2 separate regions of the Homo sapiens genome follow, and region 1 is linked to region 2. The links come from fine-mapping of genetic effects on plasma protein levels. A gene starts in region 2. The other region holds a variant in brackets. All regions are shown on one strand. Distances are between the middles of the regions. Region 1 overlaps MTOR (mechanistic target of rapamycin kinase). Region 2 holds the start of ANGPTL7 (angiopoietin like 7).

What was found. A credible set is the group of variants that fine-mapping cannot tell apart. PIP is the chance, under the fine-mapping model, that this variant and not a neighbour inherited with it causes the effect. The UK Biobank Pharma Proteomics Project read protein levels with antibody pairs (Olink). The fine-mapping took linkage between variants from a reference panel, not from the people measured, so its PIPs are less certain.
Region 1: its variant is the best candidate, but not a certain one, in a credible set for the plasma level of the ANGPTL7 protein (UK Biobank, PIP 0.61).

What each region holds. Positions count from the first base shown.
Region 1 is chr1:11,147,971-11,158,399 of GRCh38, reverse strand. MTOR (mechanistic target of rapamycin kinase) reads left to right here. Exons shown (of 58, transcript NM_004958.4): 30 at 1,109-1,248; 31 at 8,174-8,274. MTOR-AS1 (MTOR antisense RNA 1) reads right to left here. Exons shown (of 4, transcript NR_046600.1): 4 at 8,862-9,130. It also overlaps the pseudogene RNU6-537P. Among named protein-coding and RNA genes, the nearest start is that of MTOR-AS1, 9.3 kb to the right of the region's middle. The variant T/C (reference allele first, on the strand shown) is at 5,999.
Region 2 is chr1:11,183,596-11,194,024 of GRCh38, reverse strand. It overlaps ANGPTL7 (angiopoietin like 7), which reads right to left and starts at 4,670. Exons shown (of 5, transcript NM_021146.4): 1 at 4,070-4,670; 2 at 1,655-1,755; 3 at 251-445. The coding sequence starts at 4,445. All of the region lies in intron 28 of MTOR (mechanistic target of rapamycin kinase), which reads left to right. RefSeq lists an enhancer at 3,817-4,317.

The DNA of each region.
Region 1 (10,429 bases), 36 kb after region 2:
TTTTCAGAGGTTCAAGAAGAAAAGATTATTTTAGACAGCTTAGCAGAGTAGTTGTTAGTCTACATACTGCACAAACATCAGTTTTATTTAGAAAGGGGAAGAGGGTAATGGGAGAAACTAGTGTGGGCCCTGCATTATATCATACAAATTTCACTGCAGAATCATATTGTTGTTAAAGAAATCCCTAGAGAGCCACTACCCTTGCCTGTGCAAAAATAGTCATTTATTGAGCTGATGATGAAGTAGCCCAGGAGAGAAACTGAGATGGAGGGCAGACAGAAAGCATATAAAACAGTCTCCTGATCATTTGGAGAGTCATAGTCTGTAACTTTCAGACTGTAGCACCTCCTACTCACGTGGACAACACCCTCTTTCAGCGTGGCACACCATCTGCTAGGGTAATGCAATCCCTCCTTTGGCCCCTGACACTGGTAAACCTGCCAAGCACTGAGCAGGAGGGAACATTGGATGGGAGACTCTAGAAGAATAGGGGAAAGACTTTCCAAAAAATTTTAAGTGGTGGTGTTATATTTTAAATTATTATTTCCTGAAAGTTTAAAAATGTGTTAAGAAATGCAGAGAATCAAGAGGTTTTAAAAAGTGAGTTGTTTTCCTCCAGCAAACATGCAGATGAGGCCTGGTCTTTCTGGCCCCATCAGGAAAGCAGCTGCCATCCCTGTCAAGTAGCCCAGTGTCAGCACTCCAGCAGATCGGAGCGATGGCACCTTTGAAACAGCTCTGGTGCTCTGGTCGACGTTTTCTTCTATCCCTAAATGATTTCCCCTGTCCTCGTGTCCGCACATCCTGGTGTGTTCTGATGACCCATGTGTCTGGGAAGGAAATAATGGGGGAGGAGTATGGCCTGACGTCTGCTCTCAGATAATCCCAGGATCATTCCATCCATGTGCCAAGGAACCAGTATTTCCACCTTCCCCAAGCAGCACTCCTCCAGATTGTCTGAAGTTGTTTTTAATCCAAGCCCAGACGTAACTGTGATAGGTGAAGTGTCATGCGTACAGCAGCACATTAGGAAAGAGAGTATGTGGATTAAACAATGTGATCCCTTCTTCTGTGTACCTCACAGCAGTCTTTCTTTCCCATGTAACAGGAGATCCAGGCTACCTGGTATGAGAAACTGCACGAGTGGGAGGATGCCCTTGTGGCCTATGACAAGAAAATGGACACCAACAAGGACGACCCAGAGCTGATGCTGGGCCGCATGCGCTGCCTCGAGGCCTTGGGGGAATGGTGAGCTTCCTAGAATGATGGCATGTGTGGCTGCAAGAGACTTCGTCTCTTTGATCTTTGGATTTGAAAGGAAGGCTTCCCCCACACGGAGTTCTCACTTCAGACTCATTTTGTTCCACTTGATACTTCTCAGGAATCATCTTTCACTTTTGGTGTTTTTCTCTCTCCATTCTATCTCAGCTGCTAAGTAGGAAGGCCTTCACTTAAACTTTATAATGCTCTAGGACAGGACAGCCTTGGGGGTGCTCCTGGGATCTACTTCTCCTGTCTACTCTCCTGATCTTTACTGACCCAGTGAAGAGCTCATATTCTTACTTGGCAACCTTGATTTTTAAAATTAGCTCTTGCAGATGTTTTTAGGAAAGAAGAACAGTGACTGCCCTCTTCAGGTGCTTCACCTATATCGGATGCTTACTGTGTGTCCAGCACTATGCCAGGCTCCAAGGAAACAAAATACACAAGAAAACAGGCCTTTCCTGTGAGGTTGATGAGACAGCCACGTAAACAGAGGGTTATTATAGCCTGAGAGGATGTTGATAATGTGTGAGCCATGCTACCTTGAAAGCCCAAAGGAGGAAGCAGGGTGATTTTGCAGTACTTCCTGGAGGAAGGACTGAGAGTTAGGAGATAGGTAAAGGAGAAGGTAGGGGGGAAACAGGTACTCCAGGTGCAAGCAACAGTAATGCGTAACTGAGAACATTTGGCTAGGTTTTGGTTTGGAGAGTTGCTTGGGAATGTTGAAGGGAAAAAATGGCCTCCATTCTGTTTCCAACAACAAGTGCAACTTTTAAAAAATAGTTAAAATAAAATGCTATACTATCATTGTTAAACTGTTTAATTGCAGTTTTAAATGACTAAAACAGGCCGGGCACAGTGGCTCACACCTGTAATCCCAACCCTTTGGGAGGCCAAGGCAGGCAGATCATTTGAAGTCAGGAGTTTGAGACCAGCCTGGCCAACATGGCGAAACCTCGTCTCCACTAAAAATAAACAATTAGTTGGACGTGGTGTTGCAGGCCTATGATCCCAGCTACTCGGGAGGCTGAGGCAGGAGGATCACTTGAACCCGGGAGGCGGAGGTTGCAGTGAGCTGAGATTGCACCACTGCACTCCAGCCTGAGTGACAGAGCGAGACTCTATCTCAAAAAAATAAATAAAAATAAATAAAAAATAAATGACTAAAACAAAGTTCCATGCTACCTCCCGACTAGTAGGTTATCCCTACTTTCTCTGGAACATGATACTGAGGGTCCACTGTTCCTTCATTCAGCCAGTAACTATCACGTGTGTATTCATTGCTAGTGTCTGTGCCAGGCCCTAGGGACACAGCCGTGAGCAAGACAGTTACAGCCCCTGCCTTCCCAGAGCTTACAGGACAGACAACCAGGCTGTCGTAATACATTGTGATACCATCAACAAAGGAGCCCAGGGGGCTGTGGGTAATAGGAAGCACCCTAATCAGCCTTGGAAGATACCGGGAGGAAACGATATCTAACTTGGACCTGTACAATGAGGAGCACAGTATGGGGGATTTTAGTAGGCCTTTTTGTTCAGATTCTTCTCTGTGACCCCCTGTCTTCAGAAATAAGGATGTACCTTTCCTCCAGGTATAGGGAAGGCATCTCTCACATGAGGGCCTTATGACCTCCTTCAGGGGAAGGTCAAAATATTTTTCCTAGATGTTATGACCTGCTTCAGGGCATAAGGGCAGGGGAGAGTCAGAGTAATTTTTTTTTTGCTGCCATTTTCTTAAAATATTCAGTATGCCAAGGTGTGCTATATTTCAGGGTAGTATATCCTGACCCCCATCACAGGGATGTACATTGACGGCAATGTGCTGTTTTTACCATTTTGCACTCTGCTGTTTTCACTTAACAAGTCTAGGCCACTGTTCCATATCAGCACCTGTAGAGCTACTGCCTCATTTTTTTAATAGCTGCATGATATTTCATCATATCAATAAATCTAGTCTATTTAATATAGGCAAATTTTTATTTGTTTAGACATTTCCTGCCTTGGAAAGTTTAAGAATATTGGACAAAATCAAAGCAAGTCTTCTAAAAGAATGATCTTTCACTACATGTAGTCTTTCTGTACTACCTTAGCCTCCCTTGTAGCTGAGACTACAGGCACACACCACCACAGTGGGCTAATTTTTTTTATTTTTTGTAGAGACGGAGTCTCACAGTGCAGTCTAGGCTGGTTTTGAACTCCTGGGGTTCAAGCGATCCTCCCTCTTTGGCCTTCCAAAGTGCTAGGATTACAGGTGTGAGCCACTGTGCACAGCCTTCTTTTTTTTTTTTAAGAGGCAGGACTTTAATCTGTCTCTCAGTGGAGTACAGTGGTGTGATCACAGCTCACTGTGGTCTTGAACTCCTGGACTCAAGCAATCCTCCCACCTCAGCCTCCTGAGTAGAAGGAACTACAGAAATGCACCACCATGCCTGGCTAATTTTTTTAAATTATTTTTTGTAGGGATAGGGTCTCATTATGTTGCCAAGTTTGGCTGTTATTTCTTAATATAAAGTTATTACTACATCCCCAAGATAGAAGATGTTATAATGTTTTGCATGAAAATTTAATGTTAGTGAACTTAGCCTTAGGCATTGGATCATATATATATATATAGAGAGAGAGATAATATTCCACAATTATTTGAAAGTGGCTTGTCTGATTTAACCATCATTAGGAAGATTTTTATTTATTTTTATTTTTTTATTTATAGGAAGTGTTATTTATTTTTATAAATTAACATTAAAAGGCTGAGTGTGGTGGCTCACACCTGTAATCCCAAAACTTTGGGAGGCTGAGGCAGGCGGATTGCTTGAGCCCAGAAGTTTGACACTAGCCTGGGCAACAACAACAACAACAAAAATTCCATGTTCATTTACCTCAATAAATTTAGGAAGCATGTCTTTTAAAATCCGCTTTATTTATTTATATAACTAAAGCTGTTGTTGTTGTTGTTGTTGTTGTTGTTGTTTTTCTCAGTCCAACAAGTATCTAAAGCTGTATTGTCCAATATGGTAGCCTCTAGCCACATGTGGCTTTTTTTTTTTTTTTTTTTTTTTTTTTTTTTTTTTGAGACAGAGTCTCACTCTGTCACCCAGGCTGGAGTGCAGTGCTGTGATTTCGGCTCACTGCAACCTTCACCTCCCAGGGTCAAGTGATTTTCCTGCCCCAGCCTCCTGAGTAGCTGGGATTACAGGCATGCACCACCACTCCCGGCTGATTTTTGTATTTTTAATGGAGATGGGGTTTCGCCATGTTGGCCAGGCTGGTCTTGAACTCCCAACCTCAAGAAATCCACCTGCCTCAGCCTCTCAAAGGTCTAGGATTACGGGTGTGAGCCACTGCATCCGGCCTTATGGCTATTTTTAAATTAAATAAAATGTGAAATTCAGTTCCTCAGTCATACCACATTTTAGGTGTTCAGTAGCCACATGTGGCCAGTGGCTGCTGTATTGGACAGTGCACATAGAGAACTTTTCCATCATCACAGAAAGCTCTATTGGACAACACTGATCTAAGGCAAAAGAAAAGTATGTTAATAAGAATTATTCACATTATTTCAAAAACAATTTTTCTAGTTTCATATCAGCTGTCATACAATCATATCTTGTTATGAGAAAGATAAAACGAGATGGAAGTGTTCTTAAAATTCAACTCTAATCAATTCCTAAAATACTGCAATGTTTCACTGTTGCCATTGGATTTACATATAAATATCACAGCCTGGCATTCAAAGTCTTTCCTATTATGGCACCAGCCCGCTTCTTCAGCACATTTCTCTGTGAACCCTTCTCTCATAATCTGAGCTCTGGCCAAATTATTCACTCTTCTCCAAGTCCTACATTCATTCGTTCCATTCTTTGAATTGCCCTCTTCTTCTGCCTCTTTTTCTACTTTTGAAATCCTCTCCACTGTTTCTTCCCTCTTGAAACCTCTCCTGGCCCCTTCCCCTTCCACTCCTCTCCTTTCACATTAAAGATGACCACTTTTCCTAGCTGGGTTAGTAGGAGCAGATTGGATACATTGGAAGAGACTTGAGATGTGGTTTCCTCCAATTCCTTTGTGTTATAGTTGAAGAAACTGAGGCTCACAGAAGTTGAGAAAACCGAGCTGAGTGATATCGATCTCCTGATGTTGCCGTTCTCAGTCCCAAATACCTCTGACCTCTTGGGTTCTTTCCCGTTTTATAGTTACCCATAAAGCGTAAGTGGCTAGTAATGCTGACCAAAGGATTTAAGAATGTGGGAGACTAAAAGAGGTTTTAAAACGAGTCGAAAGAAGCAGAATATTTTTCCTGATCATATGCAGGTTTCTGATACGGTTTATTCAGTCAATTCTGTTTAGAGTGCAATTTCTAAATTTCTTTTGTGTGCGTATATCCTGAATATGCCTGAGGCAGATGTTCATCAGAGGTGACATGAAGAATGATCTGGAGTTAACAGTGAGCTGAGACCCTTCCCATTTCCCCATTCTTATCTGCCTCCAGGAGGCTGTGAGAGCTAGGCAACCCGCACCCCCTGCCCTGCCCAGCCCTATGGTGCAGGCAGCCACGCCTGCAGCCAAAGTGAACTAAAGTGAACCCCCTCCTCAAACTGTTCCCCACACAGCTAGGTATTGAGAACAGATTCCTCGGGAGTGAGATCATAGGCCCTCAACCCTAAGAGGAGCCATGGAGCCATTCCAAATGAAAGAATACTTCCTAAGCTTTTTATTTGTTTTAAATCTTCAGGGACCATGC[T/C]ATCTTCTCTGTATCGTTCCAATTTTAGTATATGTGCTGCCAAAGCAAGCACTTTCTGCGTTTTTTGCCAGAACGCTAGGTGAGAAAATCAAAGTCTCAGAGGGTGCACCTTTTACCCAGTCCTCCCTATGTGTAGTGAAAGGTATCAGAAAAACATATCCTAGTTGTTGCCCCATAAACAATCTCATGTTTTTTATTTATTTGGTTTTGCCCCTCACCCAACCGCCCTTGAGAGGTAGGACTCGGTATATTCTGCATTATTTTTTGTAACAAATGTTTGTGGAAGAGCAATGCTCTTGTCTGTGTACTGACCAAGCTCTGACAGCTGTTCCCACACAGCTGCATGGTGAAGGCCGTGCGAAGTTCACTGCTAGGGCTTGCCCTTCTGAGTTGCTGTTCCTACATTGCTCCCTGCTTTGTCTCTTGGGGTAACAATTTGTGGGATTTCAGCACTGAACTTGCTTCCTGCTCTAGATGAAAAGAAAAACTACATCCTTGGTCCTGTGGCACAGAATCAGCTGATCCTGAAAAAATAATAGAGGGAGGCTGAGTTAGGAGGGACAGCTTGCATGAAGGATGCATTCATCCAAGTTGCTTGTGTTCACCAGCTGTAAATTTTGAACTATAGGGTTGGAAGGACCATTTGGAGATCATGCAGCTTTCTCTTCTACCTCTAGTCAGGATCCCTACAAAAATATGCTGTGCAGATGAGCTGTGCCTCTGCTTTAAGCCAGTGGTTCTCAAACTGTGACCCCTGGTCCAGCAGTTTTGGCGTCACATAGAAACTTGTTACAAATGCACATTCTCAGCCCCTATCCCAGCACTACTGAGTCAGAAACTCAGAGGGTGGAGCCCAGCCATCTGAAGGAGCCTTCCAGGGGATTCTGATGCACTTAGTAGTTTGAGAACTACTGCTCTAAGGGAACCCCTAGCAGGGCCCAGGAGTGAAGATTTCTAAGTCTCGGTGGCAGAAAACCAACACAGAGGTTTATCCTGTTCCCTTAATGGAGCTTCAGTAAATGCATAGGGCATCATGGCCACCAGTTCCTCTTTTTGGTCTCAGCTCTGTATTGAGCCAGAGTGCTTGTGTCCCTGGTTTTCTTGATCATGTGCCAGAGAGACAACAAAGTTAATATCTGCTGTACTGCGATGCTGGATAATGGCCCTGAGTACCTCTCCTAGACGTGGTCCACAGTCAGCTTCTTGGTGAGCTCAGCCTAGATTCCTTCTGCAGGGATTGACTTCAGCATCTTTATCCCCGCCCTCCTACACCACCTTAGAGCGCAGAGCAGCTCATGTTCCATGAGGCTTCTGACCTGGGCCACTTAGAACTTGTGCCCTTCCTCATGACTCCACCTCCAGTGCCAAGTTAAATCATCCTGCAGCATGTCTTTCAGAAAGCAGGAAAAATTAAGGAGTCTCCTAGCTGCATCTTGAAGCTCACATGAAATCAGGGACTCGGATTTGCATAATAGCCGAGTTTATTTTTTTTCACTGAGAAGCGAAACATGAGAGGGAGTTTCAACAGTCAATAGCAAGACCCTATTCTAGGGCTTCCATGTTCTCTTTTGTTTATTGGGGTGTCTTAAGCACCATTTATATCTCAATATCTCATAGTCCTCCTTCACATTCAGCAATTGTGCAAAATTCTGAGAATAAGCAGCATCTAGCCTTCTGGTAGATGTGACCATTGTGGAGCCTTTCTTCTGTACAGATTGATTTCATCTGGGTTTCATTTCAGACTGAAACCATTGGTATAATACTTTTAGGAGCCAGTTCTCCCTATAGCTTTGAGCCCAAAATGAATGTCCAGATGCGTCTCTTCAGATTGCTTTCTCTGTAGGCCTGCCAAAGGGAAAGAGCCCAGAATTCTTTGGCATAGGAGAGAAGTTATTTAATATTTATGAAGGGAGCCAGATGTTCAGGACATTTCATATCACAGAGTTAGGCATGGTTCCTATCCTTGATAAACTCACCCAGAAAAATTACGAGCACCGGGTCATAGAAACAACAAATAGCCCATTGATTCTCTATTATGTGACCTAGTAGAATGTGCTTTTTTATTAAAGGTGTCCAGTTCCTGTGTAGTCCTCACCTAACCCAAGGGGCAGGAGAGGAAGATTGGTAGTTTAAGGAGATTTGGATTAATCTGACTATATAATTCATTTTCTTCAGGGGTCAACTCCACCAGCAGTGCTGTGAAAAGTGGACCCTGGTTAATGATGAGACCCAAGCCAAGATGGCCCGGATGGCTGCTGCAGCTGCATGGGGTTTAGGTAAAGCTTCCCTCACAGGCACCCTGTGAAGGATGGGGTGAGTGAGGCTAGGGGCTCGCATCAGAAGAGTAAGGTGCTGGCTCTAGGTGGAGATCCAGGTCTATGGAAGGGTAAAAATGGTCTGTATCCACCTACTTCTACACCTTCCATCTGTCCTTTCTACCTGATGATTTTTATTAACTTGTTAGACATGGGGAAAATTGGATCTTCGTGGGGAGGCCAAGGAAAACGGTGCACAAAATCAAAATTGAGATTTAGTGGGTGAGAAATACACACTTAGCACACTCACACAGAGTACTGATGCCAGATGCTTTTCCCCATACACCAAGCCATTGTCAGCAGACACCAGTGGGGTGTCAAGTAGTTCATTTCTGACCCTATCTACTTGGAAATAGCATCAGATCCCACAGGTTAAGGGCTCGTCCCAAAATATCGCCCCACTTCAGATGCCAATCACAAGTTCCAGGTTGTGATTTGTGTTTCTCACTGACCAGCTGTAAATCAGGGTTCCCATAACCCTCCTCCTCAGGTTTGATAATTTGCCAGGACAGCGCACAGAACAAAAGGAGACACTTTACTTACATTTACTTGTTTATTATAAAGGGTATTATAAAAGATAGAGGTGAACAGGTACAATGAGGGAAGGTCTAGAAGGGTCTGGAGTGCAGAAGCTTCTGTCCTGTGGTACTGGGGTTTACCTTCACCCTCCCAGCACCTTCATCAACCTGGAAGCTCATTGTTCAAGAGTTTTTATTGCCTTTCATTTTCAACCTCTTCACCTTTCCTGGATGTCAGTGGACAGGGCTGAAAGTTCAAACCCGATAATTACTTGGTCTTTCTGGTAACCAGCCCCATCCTGGAAGGGGAGAAGGAGGGAGAGACAACATAAGGCAAAGTTTAAGTCACATGCTACTCAAAGAACCAATCTCTTTGGCAATAGGTTTGGATATTCTGTAAGGTTAGTGGGGTCATACACCTACACATTCAGCAGGGTACTAGGGTATGCATCTCTGTGTCTCCATTTACCTCTTCAGTTGAAAGCAGAAATAAGAGATGAGAAGGCTGGGTGTGGTGACTCACACCTGTAATCCCAGCACTCTGTGAGGCTTGGGCAGGAGGATCACTTGAGCCTGGGAGTTTGAAATCAGCCTGGGCAACATAGTGACACTCCGTCTCTACCAATTATATATATATATACACACACACACACACATAATTTTTTTTTTTTGACATGGAGTCTCGCTCTGTCACCCAGGCTGGAGTGCAGTGGCACGATCTCGGCTCACTGCAACCTCCGCCTCCCGGGTTCAAGCAATTCTCTGCCTCAGCCCTCCGAGTAGCTGGGATTCCAGGCACTGCCACCACGCCCGGCTAATTTTTCTATTTTTAGTAGAGACGGGGTTTCACCATGTTGGCCAGGCTGGTCTTGAACTCCTGATCTCGTGATCCATCCTCCTCGGCCTCCCAAAGTGCTGGAATTACAGGTGTGAGCCACAGCGCCTGGCCCTAATTTTTTTGTTTTAAAGAGAGATGAGGAGAAGTCTCTTTAGGTTCCTGCATCCAGCTATGCCTAAAGTCATAAAGTCATCTCTATAATTGGCCTTCTCAATAAATAAATTTTTTCTTAAACCATTCTACCTTATCAGCATAATCAATAGGGGCTCATTATGAATAATAAGGAACACTCCTATCACTCAGGAAATGCAGAGGGTTTTCGATAGCTCTATACCAGGCACTAGGGACAAAGACCAAACATATTTCTTCTTATACCACAGTAGGATTTGGCTTTGGTTGCCTAAAGCAAGTTACTGATTTATTTTCCTCTCTTATAAATGAAATCTAGAGGTAGGCGTTTCCAGACTAGTATTTTGGCTCTATTATCATTAGCCTTTTTCCAGATTTCTGCTTTGCATGCTCAGCCTGTGCCTCCATTTTAAAGTTCACCTCATGATCTAGCATGGTTGCTGGAGCTCCCCATGTCATGTTTTTATCCCAAGCAGGAGTAAAGGGAGAGGACAGTTGTCTATCTCCTTTTGTTAATATTTCTTAACTTATATTTTAGAAGTTTCCCAATATATATAACAGTGAAGATTATAGTATAATGAACCCCCATCTGCCCTTCACCTTTTCCAGCAATTACAAACATTTTCACCAT
Region 2 (10,429 bases):
TTGCTCTACTCTGGCCTGGGTCTGGCCTCTTCCTGTCCCACCTGCAGCCCCACTTTTGTCGGGGGGTTGGGGGGGTTGCAGAAAGGAAAAATACCTATTTTTCCTCAACTCCATTACAACTTGCAGGAAAACCATCACAATGAATATACAGATTTGTCTTGAATCAGAATAGGAATGGCACCCCCGGAGTTGTACGCGGTCATGTGTGGTGGCACTGGTCCAGTCATGGGGCCCCTGGCCTTGTGCTTACCTCCATCTCTACACGCAGCCGGGTTGGCTGTCTGGAGAGCCGGTGGATGTGTTCGTTCCCCAGCCAGAAGTCCCCACGGATGCTGCCAAAGCCCTGCTTGTACTGCTTCCAGTCCCGGTAGAAGGAGACAAGGCCACTTTTTCGTCTCTGGATGATGGTCCAGCCTCCGCCTGAAGTCTCCATGTCACAGAACACCTGAAGCAGAGGGGATACTCTGGTGAGGGACTTGCAGGGGCAGAAGGCAGGAGCAAGAGGGCAGGCTTCCCAACCTGTTCCTGTCCCTGCAGAGCCAGTAGATGTGTGCACTCCCGCAGTCACACTGGCTCACTCGGGCAGTGATGCTGCCCCACTGCTGGTGAGCTGGGGTGGGTGGTGCATTGCTCTGGAAGAACGATGCAAATTGGGCCCGGGGGTGAGTGCACATGAAGCTTGGAGGGAAAAATCCAGATACTTTTTTTTTTTTTGAAGCAGAATTTCACTCTTGTTGCCCAGGCTAGAGTACAGTGGTGCAATCTCGGCTCACTGCAACCTCCACCTCCTGAGTTCCAGTGATTCTCCTGCCTTCCTAGTAGCTGGGACCAGAGTGCCTGTCACCACACTGGGCTAATTTTTGTATTTTTAGTAGAGACTGGGTTTCAGCATGTTGGCCAGGCTGGTCTCAAAGTCCTGACCTCAGGTGATTGTTCCGCCCACCTCACCTCCCAAAAAACTTGGGATTACAGGTGTGAGCCACCATGCCTGGGTGAAAATCCAGATAATTTGATGCTGCCTTCGTGTTTTCTTTTCTCCTCCCCCAAGGAATAGCTGTTCTAGGACATGGCAAGAGATTTAAACTAAGTTATGTGGTGGTTATAAGAATGATCTGATCTATGTTAGAAGGCTTGTTGTTTGACTGATAATGATTTGAAGGGGCCAAACAGATGCCTGGGTTTGGAGTGCAGGGCATAAACTGAGTGTTTGCATAGCTCTGTGGTGTTTGGTGTGTTTGCTTGTGTTTGAGTTTTCCTTTTTTTTTTTTTTTTTTTTAATTGAAATGGAGTCTCACTTTGTCTCCCAGATTATAGTGCAGTGGCGTGATCTCGGCTCACTGCAACCTCTGCCTCCTGAGTTCAAGCAATCCTCCTGTGTAGCAGGGATTACAGGTGCCCACCACCATGCCTGGCTAATTTTTTTGTATTTTTAGTAGAGACAGGGTTTCACCATGTTGGCCAGGCTGGTCTTAAACTCCTGACCTGAAGTGATCCACCTGCCTCGGCCTCCCATAGTGCTGGGATTACAGGTGTGAGCCACTGCGCCCAGCCGAATTTTCCTTTCTTTAAACTGTGAATGGCCCTGTTGTTGTAGTCCCCTTGAGGGGGTGAAGGACAGGTATTAGGGCATGGCCAGTGACTGTAATGACCTCACCTCCAGTTCAGGGCTGCCCAGGAAGTCATCAGGAGGAAGCTTATACACTCCAGAGATGCGGTAGTTCTTCTGGTAGAGGGAAGAGCAGTCGTAGATGGCATCTACAAGAGAACAAACCACAGGGTGAGCATTTAGACCCAGTGGCTCCATCTGAGTTGAGTGTTTAGAGACTGAGCCTTTATTTCTACCCTGGGATTCTCAGTGGTGTTAATTACCCATCAGTGTCTGCATTTGGGAGAGGTGGATATGGGGAGATCCAGAGGGGGTGTATTTTGGCTTTACTAGCGGTGGAGCAGAGGGGTAGGGAAGCCCTTCACCTGGATAGCATTAGTGGGACGTTCCAACAGGTGGTTTCAGGTTAACTCTGAAATAAATTATTCTGCTATAGCTGGGCCATGAATTCTAGAAATGTTACAGTGTATGAGGGCCACGTAACAGATACTCCTGTCAGATAGATTCAGACTTCTTAGACAGCCGCCACTATAACAAATCAGTCGTGAATATCTCATAGAGTCTGGTTTTGTTGATGTTTCCTGGTTGGTTGTTTTTGTTGTTGTTCAGAGATGGTGGCTACTGCCACCTGAGACCATAATTAAGGGAGATAGATTTTATTATCACATATTTTCCCCTTCCATCCAGCTAGCACCTCAAAACACTCAGAAGAACCTTTGAGGCCTTCCTCCCAGAAGTTTTGTTAAAACAATGAAATGAGAGCATCAGACTGGCCAGTTTTTTTACTCTAGGGCCATGGAGCTGCTACTTTATGCAGGATTTAAGCTCTGTATTCTAAATATCAAAGAGCATAGTGGAAGAGACAGCCTTTTCTGATAGGATTCAGAGACTGCGGCCCTTACTATCCAAGAGAAGCTTCCTGCCTGCTATGTCTCGGGGTGCTTTTCTTGGTGACCACTGCACTGGGACCTTAGAGAGGAGCACCAAGATGGCAGATGGGAGTTGTCTGAGGCACATAGGTTCTCTTGCAGAGCACCTTGGGAAAGGGAGGTAGAGTACGTGTGCCTTCGCCATCACTATTCTTCATTTCGTCTTAGTGGTGAAAGCACCAACTTACTGCTTCCTCTAAGGGACTACCTACTTATAGAATATAAGGGTAACTGAGCACTTGGTCATAGAGAAGAAAAATAAGGAATGATGTCCTGGGCAAGAAGAGCAAGAGACCTGGTGGGAGAGCTGCACTTGACCCCAAGAACCTCCTTGCAGGATGGTGAGAAAGCCTCCTGTTTGGATGAGCAGGAAGTGGCACGGTCAGATTCCTCTGTCTGGCCTGGTCTTCCGCATGTCTGGTTTCATCTCACAGACCAAATCAGGACTCACTTGTCTGGAAAATGGCCTGAGAATACCTTTCTAATCCCAAACTGAGGGCCCGGAAGTCCATGCTTAGAAAGTGATTGATACATGTTGGTTCAGGTAACAGAATTTTCAAGCTTGGTTTCATGTTAAAACTTTTTCTTAATTTGAGCTGAGGTTAACCATTGACTTAGTCAGTAGAAGCTGATCATGTCTTTGTTCTTCATGTAGTTTATAATGGGACCAATGGTTTTTATATCAGCAAGAAATGACATGTCTATAGGATATGCTCCTTACAACTAATATTTTCCTGATAATTTCAGAAAACCAAATTTTTATCTCTAAACCGTAAATTCATGTTGGCCCACCTGAGCTGAGCTAACCAGAAATAAAAGTTATTTTGCAAAAGAAAGATTAAATTTATCTTATTTTTGGCCTATTAAGTCTATATTTCAGCATTGCATTTAAAAAATCCTGTATTCGGAGAAATTCATTTAAGACCATGGAAAAAAATAGACGTATCACAATTGAGGAACCTTAAGGAGCCGCATCCTTCCTGAACACAAAGGGACTCTTCACATGGTTATGTGTCTCTACACTTAACTCTGAGCCAATGAGAAGAGTTACGTTTACAGAGAGAGGACACAAAATTCCATTAATGCTCATTCCTGGTAAATCTTAGGAACACCAGAGAACTGTTTCTGGCAAAACTTTGCTTCCAGAGGAACAGCTGTTACAGTTTGGTGCTTCCTTGGAATTTCTTGAGATATAGCCTGTCAGCTCTTGGTGAGGAAGTAGCAGAGCTACACCAATCAGGAAGACTTGAACCCTGCTTCTAAGACTTGCTGGGTGACTTTGGGCAAACCATGTAGTATCTCAGCACTCCAAGATGGTAGGCTGAAACACTGTGTGGATAAAAGAGACCCGTGAAGGTGTTAGGTAAACTTACATAGCATTAGAAGTCAAAGGAAATACTGCATAAGCCTTTACTAAAGGGAAAGTGTACCCACAAAAGAGGCCCCAGTAGTGGTTCTGATGACCAGGATATGTAGAAGCAGTGCTGTAGATGGGGAGGCACTCCACGCTCCCTCAGGGGACTGGTCTCCTTACCTGCGGAGGTCTGAGTGACCGTCTGTGCTGCCTGCAGCTGCATGATGTCAATTTGGTTGTTCATCTCGGAGTACTTGCTCTCAGCATCTGTGAGCCGCGACTCCATGCGCTTGCTGTTGCTCTCCAGCTCCATCACCTGCATGACCACGCTGACCCAGTCCCTCTCCTGCTTCTTGTTCAGTTCACTCAGCAGGCTGCTAAGGTTGGCAACTTGGGCCTTGAGCTCCTTCACCTCCTCACAGCAGTTGGCCGCTTTGAGCTGTGGCTGTGCTGGTGTCTTGTGCTTAGAGAGCTTCTGCAGCCACGCTGGGTGGCTGACAAAGGCCACGATGAAAATGCAGAGCCAGGTCACAGCTGAGAGAGGCTTTTTCAGCATCTTTTGTGGGTTTGGGTGAGGAAGGCTCTTCCTTCAGGGGAGTCTGGAGATGCCCAGCTGAGGTCTGCAAAGCTGCAGCAGGCTGACTGAACCTTACGCTTTCACTCTGAGGGCCTCGCCACTTTGTTGTTTTCTCTCTTTCCTTGCTCTTTGCTAGCCTTTCTCAAAGCTTGAGTCTCTGACAGGGGAGCTGAATGGGTAGCCTATAGCTTTCCTTCCAAGCCCGAATGCTCCACAAGTCAGCATCTTAAATATTGTTTGCTGCCTGTACCTCCACCCCTACCATGGCTGCACCAGGCTTTAGCCCCTCCCAGCTCATCTGGGAGGGTCAGGTGCCTGTTGGGTGAAGTCAGCGGCAACTTAGGCCAGAGGAGGGGAGGAGGGAGATGGGGCGAGTCTTTCTTTCCTTGCCTGTACAGTCTCTGGGCTAAGACAAGAGGACTGTGAATTTGTGTGTTTCCAGTTTCGCCTATTAGATTATGCCCCTGCCAGCCACTGGCTCAACTCTATCAGCAAGCAGGACAGGGTCAGAAGAATTTCCAAATTCCGTTCAAAAGGTTATATAACCATGGGGTGAGCGTAAGGTAGGCGAAAGAGACGCTACTCACCCAGGGAGGCCTGTTAATGTAATCCATGCTGTTTATATGAGGATCTGGTATATTTTGACATCCTGCTGAATATGCTTTTATCTAGGCTGATTATTCCCATCTCTGATCATTATTTAGTATTTTATAAAATCCTTACTCAACCTGGATCTAACACTATCTCACATTTGAAATCTTCCAACTTAGAAAAGTTCTAGAAATAGAAGAATAGAGTAAATCTCTTAGGAAGCCAAAAAAAGACTTTGTAGCCACAGGGTTTGGACAGTTGTCTTTTTACATGCTTTCTCCTTCAACAAAGAGAGGGCCAGTATTAGCATATAACACTTGATATTTTGCAAGGAGGTGTCAGAAGATTACAACAGAGATGAAAACTCAGCAGTGCCAAGCATGTCTGGGATTGGTCACCCATGCTTCTGTCAGTTTCTAGGCAGGACAGAGAACAGGCCCATCCTTAGCCCGTGGTTCAAAACTTGGAAAATATATTAAAATATAGAGAAAAGAATCCCTGTCACCTAATAAATCCATATCTAGAGTCTCATTTCCCTCTTTCTTTGCTGGTATGGTTTGCAATTTGAAATTATTCCTCCTCTATTTGTATATGACTTTGTATCTAAAAAACATGAATATTGTAATTTTTCATGTACTATATATGAAGGACAATGCTCTTTTGAAAAGAAATGTGAAAAACATGGAGTTTCAGCAAACATCCTTAAAATAAGCTTTTCACTAAGAATCTATACAAAGGTTCCTCTGTCCTTAAAACAGTAACTCTGTCTTTGGAACATACGATTGCTGTTTCCATGTTATGGAGCCACTCAGGCAGTTACTTGTACTGTTGTAGTCAGCGTGGGTCCTTCCCACATAAGCCTGATGCCTGACAGCTCTCCTCCCATGCCATAATCCCCCAGAGCTCTTTTCCAGTCAGGGCTTCTAGCTCCTCAGAAAGTAATTTCTGTTCAGGCAGCTGGAGTTACTGAACAATTTTTTTTTTTCTCAGAATCAAAAAGCAGTGGAGGATCAGGTGGATCAGAGTTTGTTTTCTCACATACCCAGCCTCCTTTGCCTGCTAAAGGGTGAGGATGTTACTGATACCCTTATAGCAACTTGGCATTCTAATCAAAAGATTCTGTTGAGAATTGGCACTGTCTGCCAGTCTGCTCTCTTTTTGCAAATGTCTAGCCCAGCTGGGCACCACAGCCTTAGCTCCATAGCATTCATTTTAGTAACGAGACTCTGGCCCCAAATATTGGCATCCTACAAGGTCTGCTAAAAATAGGGATTTTCAAGTGGATCTCCTGGCCATCAAATGACACTGAGCTTAAACCACATGCCACAGAAGTGCTATGTACCATACAGTCATGTATAGCAGGGGTCCCTAATCCCCAGGCTGCAGACCTGTACTTGTCCATGGCCTGTTAGGAATAGGGCCATACAGCAGGAGGTGAGTGGCAGGTGAGTGAGCATTACCGCCTGAGCTCTGCCTCCTGTCAGATCGGTGGCAGCATTAGATCCTCACAGGAGTGTGAACCCTGTTGTGAACTGCACATGTGAGGGATCTAGGTTGCGTGCTCCTTGTGAGAATCTAAGTACTGCCTGAAGATCTGAGGTGGAACAGTTTTACCTCAAAACCATCCCCCATCTCCCCACCCCCACCCTGGTCCATAGAAAAATTGTCTTCCACGAAACCAGTCCCTAGTGCCAAAAAGATTGGGGACCACTGATGTATAGCATCCCACGTGACCCTGCTGCCTTGGAACTCTCATGTAACAGTGCAGCAGAGAAAGCACAAAAGAACAGTGGAACTTTGTGGAGTTCTAGCCAGCTTTTGTTTATTCTTCCCAGTAGCTCACCCAAACAGGAAAGTGTTATGAATTGATTCTTATATGTGGGCAGAAAATAAATTAATCATTCATATTTGTACCCCATGTAACAGTCCCTTTTAGGAAAGGTAGGAGGAGGTTCGTAAGTTTGTATTGGAAGCATCTAGCCTTTAGCATGAGTGTCTGGTCTTTGACATTTATTTTCTGGAAACTTATTTCTAACATAAGGCAATACTTGAAGACAGAAGACAGAAGCTCTTGAATTGCATAAGCTACCCAAATGTCAATACTCACCCCCCCTCCAGTTTTGAGGAAAAATAGCTAATTAAGGATATTTCTCATGCCAGAAGATTATCTATTTTCTAAAACATCCACAACCTTATGATGTCCTAGATTCTGAATATCTAAATGAAGGAAAAAGAAGTCCTTGTTTTGAGCACAGCTAAGCCAGTAGAGAAAACCATGAAGGATGTGGAGGACTAAAATGGTATTGCCTTCTCTGAAAGAGGCTTTTAAATCCTTCTTCTGCCTTTCAGTGAGCAGAGTGACCTTAAAAATGGGAATTAACTGACAAAATCTGGAAAACCTAGGTTGGATACTGTTTAGATTTTCCTTTTCTCCATTTTGCTGGTGTTGAAAGAGGGCTAGCTTGGTGCTCCTGGAAAAGGTGTTTATGAAAATTAAGCTTTTGTTCTTAATGAAAAAAGTCAGTGAGGTTGTACTCAACCTGGAGGTTCTCAAAAGACTTCACAGTGTTTGGGCCGCACTGCCTTGGGCTGGCACCAAGGTAGTCTGAGGGTCACAGGGCAGGGGAGCACCTAGGGGTGGTCTCTCCTTCTATCCAGAGAGGAGCATCAGATCCCATTTGCTTGAAAATGCCCCGTTGGAGAGACTGCTGCCCACTCTCAGCTTGTGGAATGAATACATCTCAGAAGAAGCTGCCTTGCTGTTAGTTTTAATTGTGTATCTCAAAGGAATATTTCACTTCTTCTGAAGTCTTTGAAAAAACCACAGCCTGCCATACTCTATACAGCCGTTGAATATCTGCCTTTTTTTTTTTTTTTTTTTTTTTGAGACGGAGTCTTGCTCTGTCGTCCAGGCTGGAGTGCAGTGGCACGATCTTGGCTCACTGGAAGCTCTGCCTCCCGGGTTCACGCCAATTCTCCTGCCTCAGCCTCCCAAGTAGCTGGGACTACAGGCACCTGCCACCATGCCCAGCTAATTTTTTGTATTTTTTAGTACAGGCAGGGTTTCACCATGTTAGCCAGGATGGTCTCGATCTCCTGATCTGTTGATCCACCCGCCTCGGCCTCCCAAAGTGCTGGGATTACAGGTGTGAGTCATCATGCCCGGCCACATATCTGCCTTTCTAGCACTCCATCCCATTCCTGTCTCAACTGAAAGTCCAAGTCCATCACAGAAGATATTTCCATCTTTTCCCTGAGCTTTCTAATTTGCCACTTCTATCAAAGAATGTGTCCTGAACCTATTAGAAGTCTTTTCTCTCAGGCCTTCTCTTAGAGTCCTGTTTTGTTTTGTTCTGTTTTGTTTTGTGACAGGGTTTCACTCTGTTCAGGCTAGAGTGCAATGGGGCAACCATGGCTCATTGCAGCCTCAACCTCCCAGTCTCAAGTGATCCATCCACCTCAGCCTCCCGAGTAGCTAGGACTGCAGGTATGCACCACCACACCCAACTATCTTTTTTTCTTTCTTTCTTTCTTTCTTTTCTTTTTTTTTTTTTGTAGTGATGGGGGTCTCACTGTGTTGCCAGGGCTGGTCTCGAACTCCTGGGCTCAAGTGATCCTCCAGCCTCAGCCTCTCAAAGTGCTAGGATTACAGGCATGAGCCACCACACCTGGCCAGAGTCAGTTTTAAATTATGGAATATAGTAAAAAAAAAAAAAAAGTCTCTCTGATTTCTGTCAGGACTTTATAGCTCTGTTAGCCTCCACTCAAGTTGCACAATCCAGCGATTATTCTGGCCCAGTGTCTGGCAGTCTAGTTAGACAGCTGAACTCTTGGACAGTGTGACATGCTAGGATGGGAGACACAGAGGACAAGGAGGGCCTTCTAGAGAAGTGATACCTAGGTTTTAAAGAAAAAGGAGGAAATAGCCAGGAATGGGAGAGGATGTTGTAAGCAAAGGTGCAGCTATGTGAAAGACTTGGACTAGTGGGAGAATGTAAGTAGTCGAGTGTGGCCTAAGAGTCAAAGGGAAGAAGAATGGCAGCAGAAGCTAAAGCTGGAGAGGTGGAGGGGGGCCGTGCCCGGGGAGCCCAGGTGAGGAGCGGGACTGATCCTCTGTAGACATGGGAAGGAATCCTAGAGGTTTTTCCCTCTTGTTCCATTGTTTTCCTGAGTTCCACCAGGAAAGTGGCCTTGGTAATTGCCAAACAATTTTTTTTTATTTTTTATTTTTTTTAGAGACATAGTCTCATTCTGTTACCCACCCTGGAGTGCTGTAGTGCAATCATATAGCTTACTGAAACCTGGAACTCGTGAGCTGAAGCAGTCCTCCTGCCTGAGCCTCCAAAGTAGCTGGGAATACAAGCGCACACCAACACGCCTGCCTGTTTTTAAATTTTTTTGTAGAGACGGAGTCTCACTATGTTGAGGCTGGTGTGGAACTCCTAGCCTCAAGAGATCTTCCCATCTCAACCTCCCGAAGTGCTAGGATTATAGGCCTGAGCCACCACACACAGCCCAAACAAGATTTTTTCACCGCAAATGAATGATTTAGAACGTGAGAATTTCTTAAAATTGTAATGCATTCATATTAAATACCCTGACGGGGTCATTTGGCATTAGGATTAAGGAGGTAGTACATATAGCACTTGAGTTCTTAGGCCTAGAAGCAGACAAATCTGGATTCTAATCCCTCCCTAGCACTTGGTTGCTGTGTGGCCATGGACATATTACTTCTCTGAGTTTGCCAACCTGTGAAATGGAGATAAAAATCAAAACTATCTCATACCACAGGCTTTTCATGAGAATTAAATAAAGCAAAGGGTTAAATAACCAAGGTATTTTTGGATAAGGAAAATAAATTTGGAAGAGTTACACTACTACATATCAAGATTTATCATAAAGCTGCAGTAAGTAAGGCAGTACAGTAGTGACATGGATGAACAAATGGAACAGAATTAAATGTCCAGAAACAGACCCACATATGTAGAGATACTTAATTTTGTGTATTTATATTTATGTATTTATTCCTTTCCTCTCAAGCCATGTGATATAGACACTTGATTTATAACAAGGTAGCACCACAGAGTGGTGAGGAAAGGACTGCTAAGTCAGCTCAGTAGCCTTATGGGGGAAGAAAATTTTTTTTTTTCCCTCAGTGATCCTTTTTCTGAAAGAAAAGACTGTTGATCGTTACCTCACACCACACACAAAAGCTCAAGTCCAGGAGATTTAAACTCTTAAGTGTGAACAGTAAAACAATAAAATTTATAGAGGATAACGTAGGAGATTAAGTGGCTTCCTAAGATAAGCAAAGATTTCTTAAGATAGAAAAAACACCAATCATAAAGGAAAATATTAAGAAATGCAACAAA